Homo sapiens: one gene and its partner. The protein of the gene in region 1 interacts with the protein of each later gene in a pairwise test. Each region holds a gene or a part of one and is shown on either strand. Other genes may lie near its edges.

The links.
Region 2: the proteins of ZNF398 (region 1) and NDE1 interact in a two-hybrid assay, tested with the Homo sapiens proteins (one large-scale study listed by BioGRID).

The regions. Positions count from the first base shown.
Region 1 is NC_000007.14:149,150,329-149,154,144, forward strand, and holds part of ZNF398 (zinc finger protein 398), read left to right. Parts: intron 1-646; exon of another isoform or gene 647-915; coding exon of another isoform or gene 916-954; intron 955-3,616; coding exon 3,617-3,816. UniProt on the Homo sapiens protein: Functions as a transcriptional activator.
Region 2 is NC_000016.10:15,656,545-15,660,360, forward strand, and holds part of NDE1 (nuclear distribution protein nudE homolog 1), read left to right. Parts: intron 1-3,816. UniProt on the Homo sapiens protein: Required for centrosome duplication and formation and function of the mitotic spindle. Essential for the development of the cerebral cortex.

The DNA of each region.
Region 1 (3,816 bases):
TGGCTCACACCTGTAATCCCAGCACTTTGGGAGGCTGAGGCAGGTGGATCACTTGAGCTGAGTAGTTTGAGACCAGCCTAGGCAATATGGTGAAACCCTGTCTCTACCAAAAATACAAAAATTAGCAGGGCATGGTGGTGTGTGCCTGTGGTCCCGGCTACTCGGGAGGCTGAGATGGGAGAATCGCTTGAGCCCATGAGATGGAGGTTGCGGTAAGCTGAGATTACACCACTGCACTCCAGCCTGGGTGACAGTGAGACCTCATCCCAAAAAAACAAAAACAAAACCCAACAGAATCTCAGTTTTCCTTACAGACCTACTGAATAAAAATCTGTACTTTGACAAGATCTCCAGGTGATTCTTCCCCGCCTCCCGCGCCCCCCCGCCTCCCCTCCTGCCCTAGACAGAGTCTTGCTCTGTCACCATGCTGGAGTGCAGTGGCACGATTTCAGCTCACTGCAACTTCCGCCTCCTGGGTTCAAGTGATTCTCTAGCCTCAGTCTCCCGAGTAGCTGGGATTACATGGCTTGCCACCACACCCAGCTAATTTTTGTATTTTTTAGTAGAGATAGGGTTTCACCATGCTGGTCAGGCTGGTCTCAAACTCCTGACCTCAGGTGATCCACCTGTCTCAGCCTTGCAAAGTGCTGGGATTACAGGCATGAGCCACTGTGCCTGGCCCCTCCAGCTGATTCTTATTCATGTTAGTTTGAGGACAAACTGTACTAAAAGCTGAAGGACTGTGCTGAGGCTTTGTAGTAGCCACTTTATGGAATGGGACAAGCGGCATGGAGGGCACAAGTCAGTGTTGAGATCCCCACTAAGCTTAGAAACCATTGGTATGTGGTGACAGCAGTTTACCTGGTGATTTCCTCTAGGCACGCTTACTAATCTGCTTACAGGAATGGAGAAAGAATGATTGGACTGATTCAAGGCCGGAGGTTAGCTGAGCAGGTGAGGCAGAAAGACATGAGAGAAGGGGAGTTGGAAGTGACTGATGTGATCAATTAGAGAAAAAAAGCCAGGAACGGGCAGATACCAGGAGCAAATGGAATGGTCAAAGGACTAGGTGAAATGAGAATAAAGTAGTGGGTGAGTTGGAAAGATGGGAGGTTGTCGTCAGAGAGTGGCTTATCAGGTTCATAGAGTTAGAAGGCTTTGTATACATCATCCTAGTCCAACTTATTTGTTGTGGGAATTTTTTCCTTTTATACTACTCTTTGTTTCAAAGTAAATTATTTTGGAGCAGCCTTTTATTTTCTTGGAAAGATCAATAACCCAGGAGTTATAGGTTACAAGGAGCTATGGTCATGTCAGTGCACTCCAGCCTCGGTGACCCTGTCTCTAAAAATAAAAAAATAAAAAAAAAATTAAGCTATAGAAGACATCCTGAGGTGGCTGGTTTGCATGCAAGCCTATTTATTTATTCATTCATTCAACAAAAATTTCTTTCTTTTTTTTTCTTTTTTTTTTTTTGAGACTGAATCTCGTTCTGTCGCGTAGGCTGGAGTACAGTAGCAGAATCTTGGCTCACTGTAACCTCTGCCTCCTGGGTTCAAGCAATAAGTGGATAACATTTAAACTATCCATCTTAGACTTTAAAATCATATATAAAATAATGTGGCCGGGCACGGTGGCTCACGCCCGTAATGCCAACACTTTGGGAGGCCGAGGAGGGCGGATCACGAGGTCAGGCTAACATGGTGAAACCCCATCTCTACTAAAAATACAAAAAATTAGCTGAGCATGGTGGCACGCTCCTGTAGTCCCAGCTACTCGGGAGACTGAGGCAGGAGAATCGCTTGAACCCAGGCAGCGGAGGTTGCAGTAAGCTGAGATGGCACCACTGTACTCCAGCCTGGGCGACAGAGCGAGACTCTGTCTCAAGAAATAAATAATTAATTAATTAATAATGTGATTTCCCTTAAAGATTTCTTTTTTTTTTTTTTTGAGACGGAGTTTCACTCTGTCACCCAGGCTGGAGTGCAGTGGCGCGAAGTTGGGTTGCTGTAAGCTCCGCCTCCTGGGTTCACGCCATTCTGCTGCCTCAGCCTCCGAAGTAGCTGAGACTACAGGCGCCCGCCACCACGCCTGGCTAATTTTTTCTATTTTTAGTAGAGACAGGGTTTCACCGTGTTAGCCAGGATGGTCTCGATCTCCTGACCTCGTGATCCACCCCCTCGGCCTCCCAAAGTGTTAGGATTGCAGGCGTGAGCCACCGCGCCTGGCCTAGATTTCTTTTTTTTTTTTTTTCTGAGACGGAGTTTTGCTCTTATTGCCCAGGCTGGAATGCAATGATGCGATCTCGGCTCACTGAAACCTCGGTCTCCTGGGTTCAAGCGATTGTCCTGCCTCAGCCTCTGAGTAGCTGAGATTACAGGCATCTGCCACGATGGCCGGCTAATTTTGTATCTTTAGTAGAGATGGGATTTCTCCACGTTGGTCAGGCAGGTCTCGAACTCCCGACCTCAGGTGATCGGCCTCTCAAAGTACTGGGATTACAGGTGTGAGCCACCCACCGTGCCCAGCCTCTTTTTTTTTTTTTTTTTGAGACACAGTCTCCCTCTGTTGCCCATGCTGCAGTGCAGTGGCATAATCTTGGCTCACTGTAACCTCCACTTCTCAGGTTCAAGCTGATTCTCCTGTCTCAGCCTCCCGAGTAGCTGGTGTTACAGATGTGCACCATCACCCGGCTAATTTTTGTACTTTTAGTAGAGACGGGATTTCACCATGTTGGCCAGGCTGGACTCGCACTCCCAAGCTCAGGTGATCTGCCCACCTCGGCCTCCCAAAGTGCTGGGATTACAGGCATGAGCCACCGCACCGGCAAGAATTTCTTTTTTTGAATAGTTCAACAATTATTTATTAGTGGGTCACAATGGCACACACCTGTAGCCCCAGCTACTTAGGAGGTTGAGGCAGGAGGATTGCTTGAGTGAGCCAGCCTAGGCAACATAATGAGACACCAAGACCCCGTCTCTAAAAAGAAAAAAATGTATTTATTGTAGGCCAAAGTTTGCCTGTCTGAAAATTTCGTTATGTTGGTTCTAGTTCTGCCCTCTGGAGTAACATAGTGTAAGATGAAACAAGGCTGTTCTGCCTTCTGTTTTGTAACCCTCATTATCTGAAAACAGCTCTCATGTTTTCTTCAGATTCAAGATTCTTAGCTTATTCAGCCATTACTGAATGGTGTGGTTGTAGTTTGTAAACAGGGTGATTGACAGGTCTAGAGCATAAGTCTATAATGGATTTATCAGAGGGCACTAGGTTCAGTGAGGCCTGGAAAGGATCCTTGTGCACATTTGCCTTTTCCAGAGATAGAGGATGCTGCAGCAACCTAAGCTGGGCCTTATAGCGGAGGAAATATACCAGACTAGTTCAAGAGCCAATTTCATTAATTCACTGTCTTACCCAATCTATCCCAGAACCACCAAATCAGGTCTCTTGGCTGTTGATGCCAGTGAGCTCCAGAAAGATGAGGCATACGCAGGCAGTACTAGAACTATATTCAAATTAATCTCTGCTGGACAGTTAAGCAGTCCTTATCTGATTTTAGTTTGGAGTTAGGGTTCCTTCTAACACTCAATGTCTTGTTCCATCTTTCCACTGCATGCAGACATCTGAATGGGACTCCGAGTGCCTTACATCCCTGCAGCCCCTTCCTCTTCCTACACCCCCAGCAGCAAATGAGGCACACCTGCAGACAGCAGCTATCTCTCTGTGGACAGTGGTGGCCGCCGTGCAGGCTATAGAGAGGAAGGTGGAGATCCACAGCCGGCGACTCCTACACCTGGAAGGTCGGACAGGGACAGCAGA
Region 2 (3,816 bases), on another chromosome or scaffold:
TCTTTTCTTTTTTTGAGATGGAGTCTTGCTCTGTCACCCAGGCTGGAGTGCAGTGGCAGGATCTCTGCTCACTGGAACCTCCACCTCCCGGGTTCAAGAGTTTCTTCTGTTTCAGCCTCCTGAGTAGATGGGATTACAGGCATGTGCCACCATGCCCAGCTAATTTTTGTATTTTTAGCAGAGATGGGGTTTTACCATGTTGGCCAGGCTGGTCTCGAACTCCTGGCTTCAAGTGATCTACCCGCTGTGGCCTCCCAAAGTATCAGGATTACAGGCATGAGCCACAGCACCCTGCCAGGCTTGGGTGTTCAAGGAAGAGAAAGAAGGCAGTGTGGCTGGGACATAAGTGAATGAGAGGTGGTAGGGTAAGAAATGTGTAGAAAACTATGCAGGGGCCTGATCACATTGGATCTTGCACATCTTTTTCCAAACCTCAGGAGGAGTCATTCTGCTTTTGTTGTTACTGGTTCCTCACTTCCGCACTTTATTGTATGCTGACAACCTTCCATACCATGGGACTGAGACTGCCCTCAATAGTATCACCAATGTCTTTTTTTGTTTTTTTTTTTTGAGGCAGAGTTTCACTCTTGTCGTCCAGGTTGGAGTGCAATGGCGTGATCTTGGCTCACTGCAACCTCCGCCTCCTGGGTTCAAGCGATTTTCCTGCCTCAGTCTTCCGAGTAGCTGGGGTTACAGGAGCCTGCCACCACACCTGGCTAATTTCTTGTATTTTTAGTGGAAATGGAGTTTCACCATGTTGGCCAGGCTGGTCTTGAACTCCTGACCTCAGGTGAACCACCCGCCTTGGCTTCCCAAAGTGTTGGGATTACAGGCATGAGCCAACGCACCCAGCCACCAATATCTTAATGGCCACACAGTGCTCATTGATAGATGCCTTGGCCCTGGGCTATTGTTGCTATAGAATTGGTTTGATGAGTACATATTACATGAGATCTGGGCTCATTAGAGCTTATGGCTTGAGCAGGGACTCCTTGGCCTAGGTTTATGCTGCTCCTGGCCTTGTTAATGACTGCTATTAACACTCTACCCCCTTTTTATTTTTTTGAGATGGGGTCTTGTTCTGTCGCCCAGGCTGGGAGGCTGGAATGCAGTGATCTTGGCTCACTGCAGCCTCCGCTTCTCAGGCTTAAGTGATTTTTCCTGCTTCATCCTTCTGAGTAGCTGGGACTACAGGCACGCACCGCCGTGCCCGTTTGATTTTTGTTTTTGTTTTTTTAGTAGACACGGGGTTTCACCATGTTGCCCAGGCTGGTCTCAAACTCCTGACCTCAAGTGATCTGTCTGCCTCGGCCTCACAAAGGGCTGGGATTACAGGCATGAGCCATTGCGCCAGGCACCACTCTACCCTTTTGACTTTGAGCAAGTAAGGTCGTTGATTCCATACATTCATTAAGATTCCTGCGTGGCAGAAATCTAACCCCAACTGGTATAACCAAGACAAGGAATTGATTATCTCATAACCTTAAATCAGGTGTGGCTGCATCTAGGTGTTCAAATGATATTGTCAGGACCCAGGCTCTCCATCCCTTGGCCCAGCTTTCCTCTGTTTTGGCTTCACTCTGAGGCAGGCTCTCCCTTGTGATAGCAAGATGACCACCGGCAGTTTCAGGCTTACCTCCGGCTTCAGGCTTACCTCCAGCTTCAGGCTTACCTTACCAACCCTAGTGGAAAGAGAGTTTCATTTTTGACAGCTATGCAAAAGGTCTGGACCTGGGCCCTCACTGGCTTAGTATGGGTTAGGCCCATCCTTAAGCCAATCATTGGCTCAGCATGGGTTAGATCCGTGACTGTCACTGGCTGAGCATGGGGGTTAGGCTCACCCTATCATTGGCTCTGCGTGAATTAGGCCCACCTCTGTCACTGGCTCATCGTGGGTTAGGCCCACCCATGAGCTGATCACTAAGGTCGTGAATAGGCATATGCCTCTTCCCAGGTGTGGAGGATGATGTCAGATCCCTCTGAACTCATGAAATGAGTAGGGTATTCTCCCAAGGGAATATTGTGCTGTCACAGAAGATGGAAAAATGAATGCATGTCTGGAAAAAACAAGCAAAACTACAAATCATTAGCTTTATATGACATTTATTTATTTTTTGTTTATATGTTTTTGAAATGGAGTCTTGCTCTGTTGCCCAGGCTGGAGTGCAGTGGTGTGATCGTGGTTCACTGCAACCTCTGGCTCCCGGGTTCAAGCGATTCTCATGCCTTAGCCTCCCGAGTAGTTGGGATCATAGGTGCCTGCCACCACACCCAGCTAATTTTTGTGCTTTTAGTGTAGACAGGATTTTACCATGTTGGCCAAGCTTGTCTTGAACTCTTGACCTCAAGTCATCTGCCTGCCTCAGCTTCCCAAAGTGTTGAGATTACAGGCATGAGCCACCACGTCTGGCCAGCTTTGTATGACATTTCGCCTTTCTGCCTTGATCAAACTTTCAGAGAATCTGCTTTCCAGAGGGATGAGTGGGTCGGGAAATAGCATGTTTTCTCTGAATGAGGGAAAGGATTGAAAAAGTAGGAGGGAGAAAGGATGTGAATATGAGTCCCAACAAATGCAGAGTTATCGGTAAGTTTTGTGCTTGAATCTAGGTACAATTGTGCATTTCCTGGTTCTGCATGAATTAGGCCCACCTCTGTCATTGGCTCAACATGGGTGAGGCTCACTAACTTCCACCAGAAGTTAGTGGTGGTGTCTGTGTTGACACTTACATGTTTAGCCTAATGATTTCATGTTTTAACCAAAACTATATAGCTTGTTGGTTATATCTTAGAAAGTGATGGTTTTTGCTCATTCTTTTGTCCCCAGGGATACACACCAGCCTCTAAGTTCTCTTGAGGGAAGGAAGGGACCTTGCACACAATCTTTTTTTTTTTTTTTTTTTTTTTTTTTTTGAGAGGAAGTCTCACTCTGTCACCCAGGCTGGAGTGCAGTGGTGCGATCTCGGCTCACTACAACCTCTGCCTTCTGGGTTCAAGTGATTCTCCCGCCTCAGCCTCCCGAGTAGTGGGGATTACAGGCGCACACCACCATGCCCGGCTAATTTTTATATTTTTAGTAGAGATGGGGTTTCAGTGTGTTGGCCAGGCTGGTTTCAGACTCCTGAGCTCAGGTGATTCACCTGCCCTGGCCTCCCAAAGTACTGGGATTACAGGTGTGAGCCACTGCGCCCGGCCTTGGACACAATCTTTTTTTTTTTTTTTTTTGAGACGGAGTCTCGCTCTGTCACTCAGGCTGGAGTGCAGTGGCACGATCTCAGCTCATTGCAACCTCCACCTCCTGGGTTCAAGCAATTCTCCTGCCTTAGCCGCCTGAGTAGCTGGGACTACAGGTACCTGCCACTGCGCCCGCCTAATTTTTGTATTTTTAGTAGAGATGGGGTTTCACCATATTGGCCAGGCTGGTCTCAAACTCCTGACCTTGTGATCTGCCCGCCTCGGCCTCCCAAAGTGCTGGGATTACAGATGCGAGCCACTGAGTCTGGCCTGGACACAATCTTACTTGGATTCCTCATGCCCTTTTGACAAGCTCAGAGCCTCAAATAAATTCAGAAAATAGGTGATTACATCAAACAGCCTCTATCAACAGGGAGTATACAAACCGTTAGCCCAACTGTTAATAGAAGTCTGCTTTCTTGCTGGGTGTGGTGGCTCACACCTAGAATCCTAGTGCTTTGGGAGTACAAGGCAGGAGGATCGCTTGAGCCCAGGAATTTGAGACCAGCCTAGGCAACATAGTAAGACCCCATCTCTTAAAAAAAAAATTAGCTTGGCGTAGTGGCCTATACCTGTAGTCCCAGC